Regions from separate parts of the Homo sapiens genome. Here region 2 is linked to region 1. Evidence: fine-mapped expression QTL. Tissue or cell type: lymphoblastoid cells after a statin. Region 1 holds a variant in brackets; the other region holds the start of a gene. All regions are shown on one strand. Distances are from middle to middle.

Region 1 (5,259 bases):
TGAGTCTGGGTTGTTTATGAAAACTTGTCACAGCTGTTAACCTTAACTTTTTTTTTTTCTTTTTTTTCCGAGACGGAGTCTCGCTCTGTCACCTAGGCTGGAGTGCAGTGGTGCGATCTCGGCTCATTGCAACCTCTGCCTCCCAGGTTAAAGCGATTTTTCTGCCTCAGCCTCCTGAGTAGCTGGGACTGCAGGCACGCACCATCTCGCCTGGCTAATTTTTGTATTTTAGTAGAGATGGGGTTTCACCATATTGGCCAGGCTGGTCTGGAACTTCTGGCCTCAAGTGATCCACCTGCCTTGGCCTCCCATGCCTGGCAACCTTAACTTTTTATTTGCTGGTAATTATTTGTGTTTGCATTCATGTGAAAATTTGAAATTCTCATTAACATTTAAAGATTCTTACATAGATTGCTTGTAATTTTAACCCTGAAGTTGTGTCAAGTGACTTTACAATGTCAATTTGTTTTATTTATTTATTTATTTATTTATTTATTTATTTTTGTGATAGGATCTGGCTCTGTTGCTAAGGCTGGAGTGCAGTGTTGCAAATACGGCTCACTGCAACCTCTGTCTCCCGGGTTCAAGCCATCCTCCCACCTCAGCCTCCCAAGTAGTTGGAACTACTGGTGCGCCCCACAGTGCCTGCCTAGTTTTTTTGTATTTTCAGTAGATGTGGAGTTTTGCCATGTTGATCTTGAACTCATGGCCTCGAGTGATCCACCCCACTTAGGCCTCCTAACATGCTGGTGTTACAGGTGTGAGCCACTGTGTCCAGCCCGAAAATGTCAGTTTCGTGCCATGATTAATAGCTAACTACATTTTGGGAATGTAATAAAATTTCATTCTATAATGAAGTCTTTGTAAAACTCATTAGTTGTGGTATGAGGCTTGTCGGCAATATAAGTGAACGTGGTTTATTTTTATTAACTGTATCAGAACTTTAGAATGTTGGTCTCCTGAAACCATTGCCTTGAGAGGCTTTATTGAACAGTGTTGCCAATGATCAGTTTTTTTTTAAATTTCCTTTTTTTTGAGACTGAGTCTTACCCTGTTGGCCAGGTTGGAGTATAGTGGTATGGTCATGGCTCACTGCAGCCTCAACATCCTGGGCTCAAGCAGTCCTCCTACCTCAGTCTCCCGAGTAGCTGGAACTACAGGTGTATGCCACCATGCCTGGCTTTTGTATATTTTGTAGAGACAGGGTTTAGCCATGTTGCCCAGGCTGGTCTCAAACTCTTAAATTCAAATGATCCACCCACCTAGTTTTCCCAAAGTGCTTTAATTACATGTGTGAGGCACCGTGGCTGGCCAGGTCAAATATTTTTCATTGACGTTTTTCATATTGCTTTTTAAAGTCATGTTAAAATATTCTTAATAATTTTTCTAAGTGGAATTAATCTTGATTATAATTTTAGTTTTTTATAAAGGGCGGGTTTTGAAACAAGTACTGCATTTTTCTTTTCGGGTTTATAAACATTTGCTGTGGACTTTGTGCAGTTAACTATTTTCATTCCTGAAACACATTTCGAAATCAGGAATTGAAGACTAAATGTCTTTTCACTGAAGCTTGAGCAGATTTTAGAAAGGGGAGTTCTTTTTTTTTTTTTTTTTTTTGGTAGAAATGGGGGTCTTGTTATGTTGCCCAGGCTGGCCTCCAACTTCTGGGCTTAAACTGTCCTCCTGCTTTAGCCTCTGGTCTGGAGAGTTCTTTATGGCCTCTTTGAGAACTTTTACTTTACACATGATTCTATCTAGCTTTCTTTTCTGATGTACATATTGGCAGCAAGTAGAAAAGCAATGTTTTCAGAGGCAGATATATTAACAGCAATGAGAAATAACAGTAGCGTGATAGAAAGTTGAAAGACTTAGCTGGGTGCGGTGGCTCACGCTTGTAATCCCAGCACTTTGGGAGGCCAAGGAGGGTGGATCACTTGAGGTCAGGAGTTCGAGACCAGTCTGGCCAACATGGTGAAACCCTGTCTCTACTGAAAAACAGAAAAAGGGCCGGGCGTGGTGGCTCACCCCTGTAATCCCAGCACTTTGGGAGGTTGAGGAGGGCGGATTACAAGGTCAAGAGATTGAGACCATTCTGGCCAACAGGGTGAAACCCCATCTCTACTAAAAATACAAAAAAATTAAATGGGCGTGGTGATGTGTGCCTGTAGTCCCAGCTACTCGGGAGGCTGAGGCAGGAGAATTGCTTGAACCCGGGAGGCAGAGGTTGCAGTGAGCCGAGATCGGGCCACTGCACTGACGACAGAGGGAGACTCCGTCTAAAAAAAAAAAAAAAAAAAAAAA[AC/C]CAGACTTGGGGCTGGGCGGGCGCCTGTAATCCCAGCTACTTGGGAGGCTGAGGCAGGAGAATCGCTTGAACCCGGGAGGTGAAGGTTGCAGTGAGCTCAGATTGTGCCACTGTGCCCCAGCCTGGGCCACAGAGCAGAGTGAGACTCTGTCTCAAAAAAAAAAAAAAAGTTTGGAAGACTGGTGGCTGGGCATGGTGGCTCACACCTGTAATCCCAACACTTTGGGAGGCTGAAGCAGGCAGATTACCTGAGCCCAGGAGTTCAAGTCCAGCCTGGGCAACACAGGGAAACCCCATCTCAACAAAAAATATTAATACAAAAAATTTAGCCAGTCATGGTCGTGCACTTCTGTAGTCTCAGCTACTTGGGAGGCTGAGGCAGGTGGTTCACTTAAGTCTGGATGTCGAGGTGAGCCATGATTGCACCACTGCACTCCAGCCTGGGCGTTAAAATGAGACCTTATCTCAAAAAAACAAAGCAAAGAGCCTGGGAACTACTAAAATGGGAACTACTAAAAAACAGACACAAGAGCTCAACAAGTATACCATTCTGGGAGGTTTTTTTTTTTTTTTTTTTTTTTTTTTTTGAGATGGAGTTTTGCTCTTGTCACCCAGGCTGGAGTGCAATGGCGCCATCTCTGCTCACTGTAGTTCCGCCTCCCAGGTTCAAGCAGTTCTCCTGCCTGACTCCTGAGTAGCTGGGAGTACAGATATTGGTCACACACCGGGTTAATTTTTGTATTTTTAGTAGAGACGGGGTTTCCCCATTTTGGCCAGGCTGGTCTCGAACTCCTGACCTCAGGTGATCCGCCTGCTTCAGCCTCCCAAAGTGCCGGGACCACAGGCGTGAGCCACCGCACCTGGCTTTTTTTTTTTGACATAGAATCTTGTTCTGTTGCCCAGGCTGGAGTGCAATGGTACAATCTTGGCCCACTGCAACCTCTGCCTCCCAGCTTCTAGCGATTTTCCTGCCTCTGACTCCTGAGTAGCTGGGATTACGGGTGCCCGCCACCACACCCGGATAATTTTTGTATTTTTAGTAGAGATGGGGTTTTGCCATATTGGCCAGGCCGGTCTTGAACTCCTGACCTCAGATGATCCACCTGCCTAGGCCTCCCAAAGTGCCGGGATTACAGGCGTGAGCCACCACTCCCGGCCTGGGAGTTTTGACTGTAAGTTTATAGCTGTATATCTTAGGCCCTAAGGGCATTACTGTTTTATAGCACAGTGTAGTTAGTTAATGTGCTCATAATGGTGACTCATAACACCAGGTTAAATGATTTTTTATATCTCCCAAAGAAGTATTTTTCAATCTGCAGATCATGACCCCTTAGTAGATTGTGAAACACATTAGTGGATTATGACAAGCATTTTTAGAAAAATGAAAAAGAATAAGAAGTGTTAGGATGCATTGCATTATTGAAATAATTGTTTTTGAGATGGAGTTTCGCTCTTAGTTGCCGAGGCTGGAGTGCAATGGCCCGATCTGCCTCCCGGGTTCAAGTGATTCTCCTACCTCAGCCTCCTGAGTAGCTGGGATTACAGACATGCTCCACCATGCCTGGCTAATTTTGTATTTAGTTTTAGTAGAGATGGGGTTTCTCCATGTTGGTCAGGCTGGTCTTGAACTCCTGACCTCAGGTGATCCACTTGCCTCGGCCTCCCAAAGTGCTGGGGATACAGGCATGAACCCCTGTGCCCGGCCTAATTTTTGTATTTTTAGTAGAGATGGGGTTTCACCATGTTGGCCAGGATAGTCTTGATCTCTTGACCTCGTAATCTGCCCACCTCGACTCCCAAAGTGCTGGGATTACAGGTGTGAGCCACTGCACCCAGCTGCCAAGAATTGTTTTAAGCTTTGGTTTGAGTTAATGTATATATACCGCATTGTAATTCAAAATGTAATTTTTGGCCAACTCTGGGCACATTGCCTATGGACTAGTCCTGCTCTGCCACGAGCAGCAACAGTTCAATGAATTTTTTTTTTTTTTTTTTTTTTTTTTTTTTTTTTGAGACAGGGTCTCTGTCACCAAGGCTAGAATGTAGTGGTGCAGTCTCGGCTCACTGCAACCTCTGTTTCCTGGGCTCAAGCGATCCTCCCACCTCAGCCTCCTGAGTAGCTGGGAGTACAGGAGCACGCTACCATGCCTGGCTAATTTTTGTATTTTTTGAAGAGATGAGGTTTTGCCATGTTGTTCAGGCTAGTCTTGAACTCTGGAGCTCAGATGATCCACCCACCTTGGTGTCCAGAAATGCTGGGATTACAGGGATGAGCCACCGTGCCTAGCCAAAAATTTTTTTTTAAGTAATTTTTTATTGATATAGTCAAAAAAGTTACTGCTTTAGAGCCAGAGAAACGCAGTAAAAGGATTGAGAAAGAGTTTTGAGGTTATATCTAAGCTAGGGTTGTCAGATTTGGCAAATAGAAATACAGGACACTCAGTTAAATTTGAATTTTTGATGAACATTGACCAGTTTTTTAGTATAATTGTGTATTAAATTGCATAGAAAAAAGTTATTTATCTAAAGTTGAAATTTAACTGAGCATCTTGTATTTTATCTGGCAACTCCAGTCTAAGCTGGAATCATGGTTCACTGTTTTTTTTTTTTTTTTTTTTTTTTGAGTCGGAGTCTTGCTGTGTTGCCCAGGCTGGAGTGCAATGGTGCGATCTTGGCTCACTGCAACCTCCACCTCCTGTGTTCAAGTGATTCTCCTGCCTCAGCCTCCTGAATAGTTGGGATTACAGGCACCCACCACCATGCCCAGCTAATTTTTATATTTTTAGTAGAGACGGGGTTTTCGCCATGTTGTTCAGGCTGGTCTTGAACTCCTGACCTCAGGTGGTCCGCCCACCTGGGCCTCCCAACGTGCTGGGATTACAGGCATGATCTACCGTGCCTGGCCATGGTTCACTCTTCAGTAACTAAAATTTAAGCTCTATGAAAGCAGGAACTTT
Region 2 (5,000 bases), 180 kb after region 1:
GGCTCATTAAATCTCCACTGCAAACCTGTTACTCCCCCATTTTACACAGAGGGAAACTGAGGGCAGAGTCACTTGCCCACGCCTTCAGCTGAACGAAGGCAATAGGAGTAGCAAAGCACAGTCTCCAGGACCCTCCTCACTATCCTCCTCCACTTCCTGCTGAGCCCCTGCAGACCCTGAGCCCCCAGCTGCTGATGCTCTGAGCCAGCCCCTTCCCAGCTGGCCGCTCTGTGGCCCACAGGGACTCACAAAAGTTCTAGGAATGCTCACCCTTTGGCTCAGAAGGATTTTCCCTCCCAGAGGGGGTAGTGGGAAAAGGCTCAGGAAAAGTGCACTAAAAACCCTTCCAACTTCCCCCAGTAGGCCCTGGCTCTCATCCTCCGAGCCCAGCCTGCCCAGGTGGCCTCTGACGGCTCTCCCTCCACGAGGGCAGGTCCCGAGGAGCCTCCAGAGCTGTTTCCACTCAGGCAGCCAGGTCAGTGATGGGAAACCCAGACACAACCTGCGCCTGCATCCCTGGAGACCCACAGGCCCACTGCCCTGGCAGGGGCCCTGAGGCCTGGCTGCTAGCCGGTGTTAGGGAACTGTCATCTCCCCGGCGAGGGGCTGCGGGTCAGATCTCGGTCCCTCCTGCCACCAAAGCTGGCCTTGCCGACATTGCCTTGCCGGGGCCTCTGCTCTGAACCCCCCACCAGATTTCACTTCCTCCCACTCAGCCCAGCCTGGCCGTGCCCCTCCCTGGAGGCCCCCAGCTGCAGGCAGTGACCTCCTCACCTACATCATTGTGGCTGGGAATGGGGAAGAGAAACAGGAGAATGAGGAAACTAAAGAAAAAAAGAAGCGGGACAGGCAGGCAGACCCTCCTCTCCAGTTCCTCAAATGCAGTCCCCCTCCCTCAAAACAAAGCTCCCCTGGCCGGAGGGAGGGAAGGGAGGGAAGGGGATTTCTGCACCAGGCATCAGAGACCTCTGAAATACCATCCCTACCGTGCGGATCTAGAAGACCAACACCCACTCCAGACGTTTTTTGGTCGGGGGATTCCCAGGGAACCCCAGGCAAGAGGTGTGAGAGGATCAATACCAGAAACCTGTCTCTGGGACGCCTAGCCCTGGTGAACCGCCCAATTCAGCAGCATGCGGGGGCCTGGCCCGGTCGACCTCGGCAGTGCAGGAACTGGGGAGAGGGGCTTCCTGAATCAGGGCGCTACCCTCTTAGCCACATGGCCCGGAATGGGGAGTGGGGAGGGGCCGGCGCATCCTCCCCCGCTGCCCCCACACCCAAGGGCTCATCTGTGCTCACAGCCTCAGTTTGACTACTTTCACTTTCAGGGTAGCAATGGGTGACCCCTGACCGCTCCTCCCCAGGCACAAGTTGAGGGGAGGGCCGCCCCCAACCGGCGAGGCTACCGTAGGGTGGGCTGGGGGCGTCAGCGATGCCCTCTCCCCCATCCCACGGCCTCAGTTACCCCAACGCTCTCCCTAACACGTGTGTGGGTGGGGGTAGTGGCTGAGTGGGGGGTCGTAGGCGCTGGGAGCCGTCACCCCGGAACGCCTCCATCCGAGTTGGCTGCAGGGCAGTATTTTGGGCTGGGGGTGACGCGCAGAGCCCGGGCAGAACTGGACACGGGGCCTCCTCTTTCCCCACAAAAGCCCTCCCGGCCCCGGAGGAGGGGAGCGCGGGCAAACGCGGGCTCACCTGAGAGACAGGAGCTCTGGGCCCGGCCGGCCCATGGCGTCGCGCGCCCCCGGGCCCTCGAAATCCCGAGGGGGCGGGCGGGCCCCCGCCCTGGGCGCGTCCTCTCCCGCCCGCCGGCTCCTCGCTCGCGGCTCGCTCGAGCGGGGCTCAGGCAGGAAACCCGGGCTCGGAAAATGGCCAGCGCCTCATCATTTCCGCCGCCAGCGCTTGACAGTTGCGGGAGGATGCGCCCCCGGGCCGCCGCCGCCGGGGAAACTTTGCAGCGGCCGCCGTCGCCACCGCGGGCCGCGACAGTCCGGGCGGGCAGCCGGGCGGAGGCGGTGGCCCGGGCCCATGCCGCCCCGCGCCGTTATGTAAAGAGGAACCGGCCGTGCGAGCGGAGCCCGGCGGGGGAGGCCGGCCGCGACAGGGGCGGGGCAGGGGCGGGGCCACCAGGAGCCACGCCTCAGGCCGCGCGCGAGTCGGAGATTCGGCTGGAGGGGCGGGCCATGAGGGCGGAGCCCGGACTGGCCCCGCCTACCAATCCCGCTAGTCCGCGGCTGCCAGGGTCGGAGGGCTCTCCTGGCGCGGGTCCGGAAAAAGGCGAGGCCTTGCGAAGCCACGCCCACCACGTGCCCACCCGATTTCGCGTCCCACAGTCTGAAGATAGAAGTGAGGATCGGAGGGGCGGGGCGACTTTAGCCCCACCCACTCAACGCCGGCAGGTCACCAGGTGCCTCAGCGCCTGGAGGCGGGGCCAGATGAAGGGGCGGGGCCTAGGGCGGGCAGGGTCGAGGGGCCTGGCCTCCAGGGGGCGCGCCCTTGCTGACTCCCTCCTGCAGGGCCTTATCAGTGCCCGCAGGGCTGGGCGGTGCAATAGCGACCACGGCTTTCATCATCGCCCCAGGGAGGGAGCCCAGCCCTGCCCGACCCTGACTATCTGCGATCATGCTGACCCGACCCGCCACGGCCCCAGGCCCCCGATTTGGGTTCTGGCCCCAGCCCTCAGCTTTGCCTTTGCTACAGCCGGTGCCCGTATAGCCCAGCCTCGCTCCGGCCGCCCGTCCTGTCCCCCAATTCTAGGAGGGGTGCATCTTTCTCCAGGAAGCCCTCTCCGACCGCTGGCTTCCGTGGCCTCTGCGCCCACCCCCCTGCCCGCCCCCGGGCTACTTACATTTTCTCCACGGCCTCATGGGGAGCTGAGACGGACAGTGGGGTTCCCCCTAGTCCGGAGTGGGACATGCTCTCAGCCAGCCTCTCCCCCAACATGTGGGAGGGCGGGGAGGGAGGAATGTACTCTTCTCCCCCTCCCCCAACAGGAAACAAGTCGCCCACGCCCCCAGCTTGGAGGGGCCACCTCGAGTCTTCCCAGGCAGCAAGTGTCTCCATTCCACTGCCTCCCCCTCTTCCTACCCGGGCAAATGACTTGACTTCTCCGTACCTCTCCACTTCCTTGCCTATGAAATGGAAATAATGTGTACCCACTCTCCTGGCAGTGAGAATTAAGTGAGTTAATGCATTAAAGCAGTTAGCTCGAGGCTTGGCTCCAGGAAGCTCTCTGTGTTAAACAAATCGGCCCCAGTCCTGACCTTAGAACTACAGGAAGGGGTTCCCCAGAAGGTGGGGATTTCCAGACTCCGAGTAGATGGGGGAAGGGAGCGGTCTGCTACAGGATTCCTGGTGTCCAATGACCTTGAAGAAAAAGGCCACAAAAATCTGCTTTCCGCACATTTCCAGGCACTGTTCTAGGCGCTGGGAACACAGCAGTGAACAACACAGATATCCCTGCCTGCGTGGAGCTGATATTCTAGTGGGGGGACATAAGGCACGAATAAGCAAGTGGGATCAGCTATGACAATGACAAAACAGTTACGGGATGGAGAGCTGGAAGGGGATGTCTTAGATCCAGGGCTCAGGAAGGACACCTCTGCGGAACTAACATGTGAGCTTAGAACCCTCCATGACAAGAAGGATCCAGGTGCTATAACGTCTGAGGGAAGAGCATTCCAGGCCAAAGGAACAGCATGTGCAAAGGTGCTGAGGTGGGAATACATGTGGTGCTTTGGAATAAAGTCATAAAGGCAGTGGTGACACCTATACTGGTAAGAGATGATGTTTCAAAGGTGGGCCCATCACATGGTGTCTTGAAGGTCTTGGTGGGGACTTTGGGAATTATTTTGAAGGCAGTAGGGTGCCATGGAGGGTTGTGAGGAGAAGGACCTGTGGAGTGTGGGATTCAAGCTGTTCACACGGCATCTGAGGATGTGGGAAGAGGGGTGGGGTGGGGGAATGTCAATGAAGTCTAAACGAGGCCGGGTGTAGTGGCTCACACCTGCAATCTCAGCACTTTGGGAGGCTGAGGCCAGCGGATCACCTGAGGTCAGGAGTTTGAGACCAGCCTGGTCAACAGGGTGAAACCCTGTCTCTACTAAAAATACAAAAATTAGCCAGGCATGGTTGCACGCACCTGTAGTCCCAGCTACTGGGGAGGCAGAGGCAGAAGAATCGCTTGAACCTGGGAGGTGGACACTGCAGTGAGCCAAGATTGCATCACTGCACTCGAGCCTGGGAGACAGAGGTAGGCTCTGTCTCTAAAAAAAAAAAAAAAAAAAGTCTGAATGGATCATCCCATATTATTTGATCACTTTCTTATACCTGGGGACACTGCGGCCAAGAGAGAACAGTTACTTGTCTGTAGCCATGCAGCTGCCAGGCAGCACCCACAGAGCAGCCCGGTACCCAGCCAATGCCAAATGGCTGCTGAAATCTGCCAGCCACAAGCACTTTCCCTCTCACTGCCCAGACAGCAGCTCTGCTGACTTAAATTGGGACTTGTGGTTCTTCCCCTTTTTAATCACGGTTCAAACCTTCTCGCCTGCCAGATTTCTCGGAGGCCCAAACTGGTTTCCTTCCTCGCTTAGTCGCTTCTTGCCCACATCCCCGCCAGAGTCCAGTTTTTTGTTTTGGCGCTCGCTGAGACCCCAAGACTTCTCACTTTTTGTGTTTATTTTCCCTTGGAAAGGCAAAGGGATTCCAACAAATAACCTTCCCATCACCGTGCCCAGATTTGAGAGTGCCGCTGCCACGAACACAGCGAGGTCGTCGTCGCCACTGGGAGGCCGGCCAGCCACGGCTCTTCCCACTCGGCAGGTCACTGGGACCTAAGGAGAGAAAGGGTTATTCAAATTCCCATGACTGATCCGTAGCTCCCGGAAACAAGCCAGGCCGTCTTAGGGGAGCAGGTCCAACCGCCCTTCCTTCTTGCTGTGAAAAACACCAACACCTCCTGCTGGCCAAGTTCCAGAAAGCCGGAGACTCACAGGATT

Which allele goes with the higher level. Alleles are on the strand shown, and positions count from the first base shown. SD is a standard deviation of normalised expression in the study named.
As copies of AC replace C in region 1, the expression in lymphoblastoid cells after a statin of the gene that starts at base 2,050 in region 2 goes up (large effect, 1.1 SD a copy in CAP).

Evidence for each region. PIP is the estimated chance that this variant, and not a neighbour inherited with it, causes the effect.
Region 2: SH2B3 starts here. The variant in region 1 is fine-mapped to the expression of SH2B3 in lymphoblastoid cells after a statin (CAP, PIP 0.95). The same link has a PIP of 0.9 or more in lymphoblastoid cells.

What each region holds. Positions count from the first base shown.
Region 1 is chr12:111,583,432-111,588,690 of GRCh38, reverse strand. The region is part of intron 1 of ATXN2 (ataxin 2); the gene reads left to right. Among named protein-coding and RNA genes, the nearest start is that of ATXN2, 13 kb to the left of the region's middle. The variant AC/C (reference allele first, on the strand shown) is at 2,302.
Region 2 is chr12:111,402,973-111,407,972 of GRCh38, reverse strand. SH2B3 (SH2B adaptor protein 3) reads right to left here and starts at 2,050. Exons shown (of 8, transcript NM_005475.3): 1 at 1,696-2,050. LINC02356 (long intergenic non-protein coding RNA 2356) reads right to left here. Exons shown (of 4, transcript NR_187522.1): 4 at 4,663-4,835. RefSeq lists silencers at 1,712-2,291, 2,412-2,571 and an enhancer at 4,594-4,843.